Regions from separate parts of the Homo sapiens genome. Here regions 2, 3 and 4 are each reported to be linked to region 1. The links are microRNA targets in miRTarBase. Many come from high-throughput screens and were not tested one by one. Region 1 holds a microRNA gene; each other region holds the end of a gene's coding sequence. Distances are between the middles of the regions.

The links. The annotated mature microRNA hsa-miR-3192-5p reads UCUGGGAGGUUGUAGCAGUGGAA and lies in region 1 at 1,160-1,182, opposite strand. An mRNA with a match to its seed (bases 2 to 7 or 8) in the 3' UTR can be bound and repressed. Matches are read on the target gene's strand: a 7mer-m8 pairs with bases 2 to 8, a 7mer-A1 pairs with bases 2 to 7 and ends in A, and an 8mer does both.
Region 2: the mRNA of MOCS3 is a reported target of hsa-miR-3192-5p. Seed matches in the 3' UTR shown: 7mer-m8 at 2,483-2,489, 7mer-A1 at 2,317-2,323 and 8mer at 1,059-1,066.
Region 3: miRTarBase lists CALHM5 as a target of hsa-miR-3192-5p. Seed matches in the 3' UTR shown: 8mer at 868-875.
Region 4: the mRNA of MAPK1IP1L is a reported target of hsa-miR-3192-5p. Seed matches in the 3' UTR shown: 7mer-m8 at 2,610-2,616.

Annotation. Positions count from the first base shown.
Region 1 is chr20:18,468,549-18,471,805 of GRCh38, reverse strand. It overlaps MIR3192 (microRNA 3192), which reads right to left and starts at 1,191; the gene lies at 1,115-1,191. It overlaps POLR3F (RNA polymerase III subunit F), which reads right to left. Exons shown (of 9, transcript NM_006466.4): 2 at 2,745-2,862.
Region 2 is chr20:50,960,064-50,963,320 of GRCh38, reverse strand. It overlaps MOCS3 (molybdenum cofactor synthesis 3), which reads right to left. Exons shown (of 1, transcript NM_014484.5): 1 at 1-3,257. The coding sequence ends at 3,096. Among named protein-coding and RNA genes, the nearest start is that of MOCS3, 2.9 kb to the right of the region's middle.
Region 3 is chr6:116,515,689-116,518,688 of GRCh38, reverse strand. CALHM5 (calcium homeostasis modulator family member 5) reads right to left here. Exons shown (of 2, transcript NM_153711.5): 2 at 1-3,000. The coding sequence ends at 2,700. All of the region lies in intron 3 of TRAPPC3L (trafficking protein particle complex subunit 3L), which reads left to right. Among named protein-coding and RNA genes, the nearest start is that of CALHM5, 5.6 kb to the right of the region's middle.
Region 4 is chr14:55,064,377-55,067,376 of GRCh38, forward strand. It overlaps MAPK1IP1L (mitogen-activated protein kinase 1 interacting protein 1 like), which reads left to right. Exons shown (of 4, transcript NM_144578.4): 4 at 240-3,000. The coding sequence ends at 251. Among named protein-coding and RNA genes, the nearest start is that of MAPK1IP1L, 14 kb to the left of the region's middle.

The DNA of each region.
Region 1 (3,257 bases):
AGGCCATGTTGGCCAGGCTGATCTTGAACTCCTGGCCTCTAGTGATCCGCCTACCTCGGCCTCCCAAAGTGCTGGGATTACTGGCAGGAGCCACTGTGCCCAGCCCATTCCCTTGTTTTAAAACAGACACTCATGACTTGGAAATGGATTTACATACTGAATGAACAGTGACACACTCCTGTTCCCTGACCCCACGAAGTGGCAAAGTAGGACTACAAGGCCCAATCCAGAGGCTCTGGTCATTTATCCAGCTTATGAATATTTACTGAATACTTGTACTGTGCCAGGTGTTATGATAGGTGTTTGGGGGAACAACATTAATTCTAAAAGGGAAACACACAGGTGACTTCAATACCCATCTGGTTGGCATTAAGATAGAGGTAAGTAAAGCCACCCTGAACTCCCAGATTGGGTACTCGGAGAACAGGCTGCGGCCCAACCTGGGGGGGTTCAGTGACTTCCTGGAGACAATGGCAGAGTTGAGTCCTAATGCGTTAGTCATCTGTAAAGAATAAGAAGAACCTTCTAAGCAGGGGAACAACATGAGTCCTGTGGCACGAAACAGCATGATGTGGCCAGAAACCAAAAACAATCTGCTCCTCCTGAAACCTAACTTTTGAAGTAGAGTGGTGGAGATGAGGCTGGTGAACAATGCAGGGACTCAGTGTGGGAAACCCAGGAGTTTGAACTTGAATCTCCAGTATAAACAAATTGTAGGTGGTAGAGTGCCTTGGTCAGACCTGCATTTAAGACAGATCAGGGGCCAGGCTCGGTGGCTCATGACTGTAATCCCAAATCAGGCTGGCTTCTCTGAGACAGATGGAGTCATGGAAACCAGTTAAGATGCTACTGCAGCTGTCCAGGTAAAAGCCATGAGCCTGAACATGATGCAGTACCAGGGATAGAAATGGAGGGGGTGTGGACAGCAAATTTAAGAACTGTTTTTAAGAGCTAAAATCAGAAACATTACATGATTTATTAATAATCACTCCCTTTCTTAATATCCTTTGATAGCTCTACTACTGCCTGCATACAACCTATAGCCAATAGGACTCGCAGTGGGTGGGTGGTGGCAGAGGTGGTAAAAGAGAGGTGCTGAAGATGATTTTCAGTCAGAAGGAAAGAGCTGAGAGGGCGATCAGAGGAAGAAAAGAACTTTTTCCACTGCTACAACCTCCCAGAATCCCTTCCTCTGTCTTTCCTAGAGCTGAAGACCTTCACCACAGTGAAATAACTAGAAATCAGCAACATTCCTTTGTCCTTGGGCTAGAACAGGGGTGAGCAATCTGCTCCACAGCTTGTTTTTATAACCAAAGTTTTGTTGGAACATGGCTGTAGCCATTTGTTTATGTATCATCATCCATGGCTGCTTCTTGCTAAAATGACAGTGTAGTTGTGACAGAAATCATATGGCTCACAAAGCCTAAAACATATACTGTCTGGCACTTTATAGAAAAAGTTTGCCAACTCCTGAGCTAGAAAATTGATGGGAAAGGTTTAAGAAAAGATTCATCGGACCCCAAATCTCCACATCCAGAGCCCTTGGAAATCCAACAAGGCTAGTAGACTTAAAAAACAAATCAGTCATTCAGATGAGGCCTTGGCGTAGAACTCTTTAACCTAACTGCTACTAAAGCCAAACTGAAATGCTCTTAGGAAAAGGATGTTTTGGTGATGAGGGAAAGTAAGGGAGATTTAGAGCATCGGCACCACTTGGTGGGTTTTTAGACAGTCTTGCTTGTTTGTTTCTGGACAGATGGAGAATGGCTTCACTGATAAATTCCATTGCAATGTCACTGGGGGCTAAGGCTGCACTTCCTCCCCAAAGCCCAACATTCTTCATTCAACTGGACTCATTCTTGCTTCCTGAAATGCTCAGAGTGACAATGTGGAGAATGAAACCCTGATGACTGGGCTCTGTGACAACTCATAGGAAAATCGGGGGGTGGAATATTTTATGGGAAATGGCCCAACACCAGCAGTAGGAAGCAAACAGAAGGTGAGAACAGACTAGACCTATGTATGGCAGTGGCAATTAATAAATACAACAGTTATACCATAATACATTTATTTCATTTGTCTTATAACGCATAATTATTTCTTCTTTTTTCAATTCAGGTAGTTTGAGCTGTTTCCTGGTTTAGAGTCTTATCAGTCAAACCTAACACACTTTCTCGTTTTATGACTGCTGTATTAGGGTTCTCCAGAGAAAAAGAACCAATAGGATACACCTCCCTCTTGAAAGATTCATCAGAAGCTATTTGCTCTGTGATTATGGAGGCTGAGGAGTCCCATCATCTGCCCTCTGCAAGCTGGAGACCCAGGAAAGCTGGTGTTGCAGATCAAAGGGCTGAGAGCAGAGAGCTGATGGTGTAGATACCAGTCCAAGTCTGAAGGTCTGAGAACCAGGAGTGCTGAGGGCACAAGATTCATAGCCCAGCTCAAGATTGAATTCAAAGAGTGAATTCAATCTTCCTCTGCCACTTTGTTCTATTTAGGCCCTGAATGGATTGGATGATGCTCACCCAACTGGACCCATATCTACTTTACTCCGTTCACCAATTCAAAATGCTAACCTCTTTCAGAAACACCCACACAGACACTCCAATAAAATATTTAACTAGATATGTAGGAATCCTGTATCTTAGTCAAGTTGACATGAAATTAACCATCACAACTACATAATAAAAACCAGTGATAATCAGCATATCAGTAATTATGCAAAATAGTTAGATTCACCTTACCATAGACAACAACCTATTGATGGCTACTGCCCGCTGCTGGGCTTCTATATGAGGCATTTCATTCTGAATTACTTGGTCTGTGATTCCATGAGGGAACTGGTGACATAATTCTATAATCCTAGAAACAAAGGTATTAATGTTATCCTTCATGGTTACCTGTTTCAAGAGACAGTGGGGGTAAAAATACAAGTAGAATAGTTTGAAACTGTGCCTTTTTCACATTTGGCAGACAATCTGGGTTTCTGTGATGGTTTTGGATCAAAGCATGTTAGAAATTGAAGAAGATGATTTCTAAATACATGTTTACAGTATTATTGTTATTTAAGAATATTTCTTTTCCTCACTAATAAGAACTTTAAATTAGAGCAAAAGTCTAATGAAATCACAGAAAAAATATTAAAGCTGAGACTTCAGTTTTCTCGGGTGTAATAAGCATGACAAAGTTAAGCCATAAATCTGCAAGCAGGAGGCAAATGCAGATGTTTCTGGTAGGAAGCCAAAATTTGTTATGAC
Region 2 (3,257 bases), 32 Mb from region 1:
CTTGCTCATTTTTATTCCAGAACCTAGAAGAACTAGTACACTGAAGGCATTTGATGTTTGTTATGAAAAGGAAACAACAAAAAAATCAAGTTCAGGCTGGGCATGGTGCCTCATACCCGTAATCCCAAGCACTTTGGGAGGCTGAGGCAGGAGGGATGCTTGAGCCCAGGAGTTTGAGATCAGCCTAGGCCACATATTCAGACCCCATTGCTACCAAAAAATTTTTAAATTAAAAAATGGCTAGGCATGGTGGCATACAACTGTAATTCAAGCTACTTGAGAGGCTGAGGTGGGAGGATCACTTGAACCCAGGAGGTTGAGGCCACAGCGAGCTGTGATCACAACACTACACTCCACCCTGGGCGACGAAGCAAGACTTCGTCTCAAAAAACAAATTATGTTCAAATCCTATCTCACCATAAAAACCTAGCTACAATCCCCAGAGAAAACCAAATTTCAAATACTAATATATGCCAGGTGCAGTGACTCATGCCTGTAATCCTAGCACTTTGGGAGGCTGAGGTGCACAGATCACCTGAGGTCAGGAGTTCAAGACCAGCCAGGCCAACATGGCGAAACCCCATCGCTACTAAAAATAGAAAAATTAGCCAGATGTGGTGGCAGGTGCCTGTAATCCCAGCTACTCAGGAGGCTGAGGCATGAGAATCACTTGAACATGGGAGGTGGAGGTTGCAGTGAGCCGAGATTGTGCCGCTGCACTCCATCCAGCCTGGGGGATAGAGCGAGACTCTGTCTCCAAAACAACAACAACAAAAAACAAATACTGAAATAGATCTGGGTTGTGTACTGGGTATCTGTTATATTCTTAACAGCCCATCTTTTGAAAAATATTTCACTATTTGGGAAAATCCCACATCATGAGTTCTGTCTTCCTATTGTAGATATCAAAACACAAATTCCCAGCCTCTCTTGCAGCTAAGATGTAGGCATGTAATTAGACTCTGCCTACCAGGCACCCTCATAAGGCTTGACTCAGAAAAGAATAATGTAGTGACTCTGTTTCTCGACACATGGACTGTGGCTGAAGTGTTGGGCTTTCTGGGAGAGTTGGGGGGGCACGTCAAGTGAAACTGGTGAGACTGTAGTGGCGTTTCCTCCGGTACTTGATAGGGCAGCACAACATAGACACTGTTCTCCTAAGGCCAGTTTTGTGCATGATTTCGGGCATCATTCCTAGAAGTACAGCCTTGAATCTGTCCCCAAAATTCTCAAAAGCACCTCCTATCACTTTAGTAAACCTTTTAACACTTAGCTAGTCAGCTTCTCTTGCCTGTCCCCTGTGACAACCAGGTTTATAGGAACTACAACTGTCTATAACTTTAGGACTTCAGTCTTTAGAATATGAAATTGTTCCTGTGTGTCGCTATTTGTTTCCTGCTATGTATCAGAATCAGTTGTCCCTGGAAGAAGGAGATGAAAAACACAGGCCAGCCATCTTTGTTCTCCACTCCAGGTCACAGTCATTTACCTCCATAACTCGTTGGCAGGAACAGTCATAAGAGACCTGCTTCATCTTTATAACAGAAGGGTATACCATACTTTAAGTATACCTGTTCAAAGAATTAGTTACAATGTTTCACAGTTAAAAAGTGATGACTAATTTTGAATTTGTTAAATACCACCCTCTTATAATAAAACAAGATTCTATATCACAAATTGCAAACTGGTAAGTAAATCTGGTCTACAAAGGGTTTTTGCTGGCTTATGATACATTTAAGCTTTAAAAAAAATGGTTAACAGAAATACAAAGATTTTATAGTTGTATCTGTGATTTCTGCCATTCTTAAAAAAACAACAGCAGCAATTGATGATTATAAGCCTGCATGCAGCAAGCAGGAGGTCACAGGCCCCCTTCTGACAAGCCATTAGTTCATCTGGCCACTGATAGGCACTCACAAATCAAATTTTTACTTATAATGTTGTTGTATATATTGGAAGTTGGTGAGACTACCTACTATTTTATGAAAATGTTAAGTAAACAAACATAAAAACATTTTACATTAGTATAAAATGCTGGAATAAAAAAACATTAAATCAAAAGAGAAAAGGCAAATTAAAGGGGGAGAGGCAAAGGGTTGGGACTTTGACTTGAAAATTCCAAAGCAAGTCAAACCATAGTATGCAATTTAAACGATGTGATATGTGTGCAACATAAGGTGGACCCTGAAGTTAACTTTAAGAAAACAGTAGCAATTTATAAGAGACACTGACAGACTACAAAGGTGGTTTCCTTTATTTTGGTAAACTTTAAAGATCTCGGGAGGGTGTGGTGGCTCACGCCTGTAATCCCAGCACTCTGGGAAGTCGAGGCAGGCGGATCACGAGGTCAGGAGTTCGAGACCAGCCTGACAAACATGGTGAAACCCCCTCTGTACTAAAAATACAAAAATTAGCCAGGCGTGGTGGCGTGCGCCTGTAATCCCAGCTACTCAGGAGGCTGAGGCAGGAGAATCGCTTGAACCTGGGAGGCGGAGGTTGCAGTGAGCTGAGATCGCACCACTACACTCCAGCCTGGGCAACAGAGAGAGATTCCATCTCAAAAAAAAAAAAAAAATCTCATTTTGATACTAATTCAAAAGGCCAAATAGAATGACCCTCTTTCTGAATAATTAAAACAATTTACATTTTAAACATGTATTTCTGTAGGATGTATTCTATCATCTGAAATATTAATAAGATCCAAGAATTTCTTAACTGAACAGTAAACAGATCCGAAGTATATAATCTGTGAAAATGATTTAGAAAGCATTTTGACTGGGGGAGGTGGAAAATAAGGACATGTAAATGATCTGCAGTTTAAAATGCAAAATCCTGTCACGTTACATCTCACATGTCCAAGACATCCTCCGTGTGCTGAAAAAAAAAATGATGGTTCTCAGAAACGGTATAATCCATTAATAAGTCATTCATCCAATACATAACAATTTTTAAAACTCCTTATAAAAAGGAGTCCACGTATTCACAGATACTGTAGAATCCCCAGCTCCTATGTATATTACCGAAAAATGCAAACAAGTGTATCTTTGAGGTATTATGGCAATCCACATCTTTCTCATCAGACTATACCAGTCACCTCAGTACTGTGGAAATGTTCCATCGATTTTGGCAGCCCAGGCCATGAGGCCCCCCACAACATCCCGAACTGTTAAAGGGTCTAACTCTTGAGCTGCTGATAAGGACTGGAGGATCTTCACGGCTTTCTGTGAGTCATTTCCCAGTTTGCAAATCACATAAAT
Region 3 (3,000 bases), not on the chromosome of region 1:
TAGAACTTCTGTTTCAGCCTCTCACACACTGCAAAAGAGGCATCGGCATCGGCCAGTTCCTATATGTCTTTTTCCAGCTCAGAAGACACTTAAGGGCAGACAAACTTTAAGTCAAGAAAGATTAAGAAGGAGAACTCTTTGCTGAATTTTCTCTCCCTTTATTCTGAAAACTCTACCCCCTCACATCCCTAATCCCTGTTCTGTCCCTGCCACATACACACACAGACGTCTGACCCTGCACCTCCAAGTTCCCAAAGATATTGTACGTAGAAAAAACAAACCTTTTTTTATTGACATTCACACTCAACACTGAACACTCCTTGCCACCAACTGTGTGGGTTTTCTCCCACACTGGCCAATTCTCCAATACCAACTGGATATCATACAATTCAATTCTGGCATTAATCGGCATTAAGTGCAGATCCCCAGCAGGTTAAGAGCTCAGTCCCATAAGATCTCCCCCAACTTCAGACACCAGTCACAAGCAGTAGGTTCCAAAGTTACTCACATCTTCTATCTGACGTGGCTACAAAGCAGAGGTTCCCATGATTTCCTTCTCAGATTTCACCATTTGCTAGAGTAGCTCACAGAACTCAGGAAAGGGCTTTATTTACTATCATCAGTCTATTATAAAATAATATAACTCAGAAACAGCCAGATGGAGGCACAGGAACAGGTTTGGGGGAAGGGGCACGGAGCTTCCACGGCCCCTTTGGGCTCACCACTCCTCATGTATTGAGCAATGCAGAAGCTCTCTGAACCTTGTCCTTTAGATTTTTATGGGAAGCTTTATTCTTAGGCATGATTGATTAAATCATTATCCATTTGTGATCGACTCAACCTTCAGCCCCTCTTCCTTCCCCAAGGTCTGGGAGTGGGGCTGAAAGTTCCAACCCTCTAAACACATGGTTGGTTCCCGTGGCAACCAGACCCTATTCTGAGGCCATTCAGAAGCCCCTAACTATCAGTCATCTCATTCGCGTACTACCAGACACATCACTTGGGAGGTCCCAAAGGTTTTAGGAGCTCTGCACCAGGAATAGGAAGAAAGACCAAATACATATTTCTTCTTGTAAATGACAATAACATAGATATGTTCTGGGTCCTATACTTGTAGGATTCAGTTTGCCATCATGTTTCATGTTAATAAGAAGTTAATATTCAGCTTTCTCAAACTAAGAGACATAGACTACCACTGTAAGGTATGAGCCACAGCACAAAACATAGTTCTTTTTTAAAGCACAATTCTTCTCAGAGATTTAAGGAGAATTTATGTACATATATACATACACATATATATGTACATACTAACATGGATATAGTACATTGTAGAATGCAAGATTTGCATTATTTCTGATAAATGTAAGACTGCAATGCAGTTTTATGCCAGTACTGCTTTGGACAGTGTCCCCAGACCTTTAGCCAAGGTCAATTTACCCTACTATAGTCTGAATGTTTGTGTCTCCCCCAATTTCATATGTTGAAATCTTAACCCCCAAGCTGATAGTACTAAGAAGCAGAGCCTTGAGAAGTAATTGGGTCATGAAGGTGGAGCCTCCAGGAATGGGATTAGTGCCTTATAAAAATGCTCAAGGGAGCTTATTTGCACTTTCCACCATGGAAGGACACTGAGAAGTCAGCAAGCAGTTTGCAACCTGGAAAATTGCTCTCACCAGAACCTGAGCATGCTGGCAGCCTGACCTCGGACTTCCCAGCCTCCAGAACTGTGAGAAATAAATTTCTATTTTGTATAAGCCACCTATCTATGATATTTTGTTATAGTAGCCCAAACGCACTAAGACATACCCACGGCCTAGTAAGCACTGTGCCTAAGGACCATAATACTTGTAAGGGCCCACTAAAATGTTTTTAATTTCTTTTAAAATCAGAAGAAAATACATAAACTTTTAGGTTGAAGAAAATGCTAATATATTCACCTTTTATCAATGCAGTTATAAATATATATTTCTGTGTGTGTGTATATATATATATATATATATATATATATATATATATATATATATATATTTGTTACTACTATTTTGAATGTAGGAAATGGTTCGCAAAGGCAAAAGTACATAAAGCCCACAAAAATTATGATGCAGCCCTGCTTCCAGGGGAGTATTTTCAGTATACAGTGAAAACATGTGAAAAACTTTCAATTTTAGGTATCATATTCTTGCAACTTGTGATTTTTGAGAACTGAGATCTTCAGATCCTGAGGGAATGAATTCCACAATTTCATACATCCTTAAAAGTGTAGATTTGTAGGACAGAGACTCCTGCTGATCACACTGCAGGAGCCACTGTGTAGGGCAACCTATGTTAAGAGTAACTTGCTCACTCACAAGCCATTGCTTCTGCCCCTAAATTCTGCAACCAATATTTACAGAGACTGATGAGCCCTCTCACATGAGTCTGTCTGTTGAATGATAAAATCTTAGATCTTGGAGCAACATTTAGGCCTACTGAGCCCCTCTCCACCAATGCAAGAGCACCTTTGTCACCCCTCAGCATCAATTTGAGCACATCCTGATGTTCCACTTGAGAGCTTCAAAGCAGTTTCCTTTGTGTTATTGTCTTGTAAACATACTCCAAATGTAAGAAAATACAGAGACACACAGGTTGCTGGTGATACGTTAGGAGGATCACAGAATGAGCATGCCACTCAACACCATGAGTCATTGATGGTGGATGAGCTACATATTGTGGGCAGTACCCACAAGGACCATTGTCGTCTCATCATCCTCAGGGCTAAGTTGCAGACCATTGTCCACCACTCTGTGGAGGGTGCTATAGTGTTGCTGGCTTTGGTGGAAAGAATGCAGCTCTGAAGCAGCCTCCCAGGCAGCAAACGTAGGCATGGGAAAAGGATCTGGCCTCTTGTTTTCAAAAAAACATTTCAGGTTCCTCTCGCTCAGCTTGTTGGCATAGTCCAGAAATGTATTTTCCAACTGCTCCTTCTCCTTTTGTGCATATGTCTTCCAAAAACTCAGCTGA
Region 4 (3,000 bases), not on the chromosome of region 1:
CTATAAAGGAAAAGAAATCTTTAAAGTACCCCTAAAACTTCCTCCTTGCATTAGTGTAATTTCTTTCTTGCTATATATATTATCTAAAAATATTTGTTTTGCAAAGTGTATGCCAGAGTAAATGATGTGACTTGCTGTTTGGATTTATTAAGCAATAAATTTACTTTAAGCCACAGTAAGGAGTTAATAAACTCCATTTGCAAAATCTAGAAGTTGACTTTTTCTTTTTTCTATTGCAGTCTTACCATTAAGTTAACAATGGACGAAGAGATGACGCTTTGCTTTTTGAAGTACATGTATATGCACATGAATGCATATATAAAAATTGCTGGTTTCACTATTAGAGGGCATTCATGAAAGAACAACTCTTGCACCTCTCAGAGAAGATAACTGCCTCTTGTACTTGGATGCGTAGTACATCATATGTATACAATCAGATAAAAGCATAGAAGTAAATCATTCGGATGTGATTTTTATTTGGTTTTCATGGAAAGTTAAAGTGATAAAGTATATTGAATAGTTCTTTGACAGAATTTGTTTAAACTATGAAACTACACACTTAAAAATCTAAGATGTGGATTATTGTTAGAATCTGCAACTTCATTGGCAAATTATTTCAAGTATTTTTCTATAATCACTTTCCCCTTCTAAATAAATAAACTTCGAGAATAACCCATCATAATCCAAACAAATGATGCCTCAACATTTTGAGCTGCTCTGTCGGACAAATAAACCTGGTCCTCTTGAGGTTATATTTTGGATATACATTTTTAAACTGTCAGTAATTATTGTCAGATGTGGAGTTCAATAGCCAGCCAGTGTTCATTTTTATCCTTGAGCTTTTAGTAAAAACTTCCTGGTTTTATTTTTAGTCATTGGGTCATACAGCACTAAAGTCTGCTATTTATGGAAACTAACTTTTTTGTTTTTAATCCAGGCCAACATGTATGTAAATTAAATTTTTAGATAATTGATTATCTCTTTGTACTACTTGAGATTTGATTATGAGATGTGCATATTGCTTTGGGAAGAGCTCGAGGAAGGAAATAATTCTCTCCTTTGTTTTGAACCTCAAACTAGATAAACCCTAGGAATTGCTTAACTGCAACAAGTAATTTTCATTCCCACAAAAACCTGAGGCAGCTCTTTTGCCCAGAGCGTTCCCTGTAGCCACCCCCACCCCACTTGCCCTTGGTTCTTTAGAAGGAGCACACACATCCCTTGATTCCTCCCTGATGTGGTAAACTGGCACACTCCAGGGGTCTAAAACATAAAACAGTTGTGTTTAGGGAACCTTAAGTCATGCAGACATGACTGTTCTCTTTGTACAAGTGTGAATCAAAATATGTATCTCTTTTTCAGAGTCTGGTTAAGCTATGTCATTGTCTACTGCATAGTTTCCTGAGTCTGTTTGTAAAGTGCTTATGGCTAACAGTTCAGTTCTGTATTTGTTGACAGGTAAATAAGTGGAGTTGAGTGCCATCTTTGAAAAAATTACCCTCTAGCTCTAACACTGAAAATAATAATAAATTGTAGATCTCTGCAACTAAGTTTAAAGCAGTGTGACTGTGTTGCTTAAATATCAAGTATTGTTTATAACCACCAAAAAAAAAAAGCCCTGGTAGTTTTTTGGCACCTTATGTTTAAATCAGATTCTTAGATTTGGAGTAGACCTGACCTTGTTATTTATTAGATAACATTTTGAATGTATCCATTGGATTTCTAAAATGTATTGTGAATTTCTCAGACAAACAGGATTTATGCTGGAGCTCTGTTTTGCTTAGAAATAAAATATTTAGTAGTTTATTTCTGCTCTAATTAAAATGTCAAGAATGCCAAATGCTGCCAGTTTTTTGGTTTGATAGCTACCTCCTTCTAAGAAAGCAAAATGGTTACCTTTGAGAGGAACATTCAGTGTTTAATCATCCCTTATGTTAACTAGATGATAGATTCAAGCTTTTAGAAATGAGAAAGTAGAAACTAATTTGTTAAGATATTTTCAGACTGCGGAATGTTGTTAGCTTTTTCTTTCACTTCTCTTCAAGGACAGGTGTTAGCTGTCTACAATACTGTTGAACTCTGTTGTCAAAGTAGCCCCCTTAGTCTACAAGGCAGGTAGCCTTGGCTTGAATTATCAATATCAAAATGTCAGTTAACCATGGAGGGATAAAGTAATGTGAAAAGTGAGATGGCTGCAAAGATAGCTCTCCTTACAGTTATTTTGGCTGTCCTACATTGGGATAAGCTGACAAATTAGCAGTATTTAGTTTAACACTGGAGCAAATATAATTTGAGTAGGAAGAAGAGATAGCAGGTTTGGGAATCTATAATTATGAAGTCCATTGATTTTGGGAGAAAATCTGTTGCTAAAGGATTTGAAGGGCCATGAACACAATTTGGGATTATTACTCCCTATAAGTATAATAATTTTGCTAGTGACCCATACTGTCCAGTGTGCCCTAAATCATACTGCTATTGTACTCCCTTTGTTTTCAAGGACTTTGCAACTGGTATTTGGGGGAGATTTTTTTTTTTTTTTGAGACGGAGTCTCGCTCTGTCGCCCATGCTGGAGTGCAGTGGTGCTATCTTGGTTCACTGCAAGCTCCATCTCCCAGGTTCACACCATTCTCCTGCCTCAGCCTCCCAAGCAGCTGGGACTACAGGTGCCCGCCACCATGCCCGGCTAATTTTTTTTTTTTTTTTTTTTTAGTAGAGATGGGGTTTCACTGTGTTAGCCAGGATGGTCTCGATCTCCTGACCTCGTGATCTGCCCGCCTTGGCTTCCCAAAGTGCTGGGATTACAGGCGTGAGCCACCACGTCCGGCCGATTTTTTTTTTTTTTTTTAATGTAAGAATGGAGATAAAAGGGATAATATAATTTGCTTTTATATTGTTATTTTTGTAAAGCATCTTTTCTTCAATTCTTGTTGGCATTCTGGGCCAAAATATTTCAGGTTGGTTCGGTGTGGAGTTAAGAAAAGCAGGCGTTTTAGTGGAGA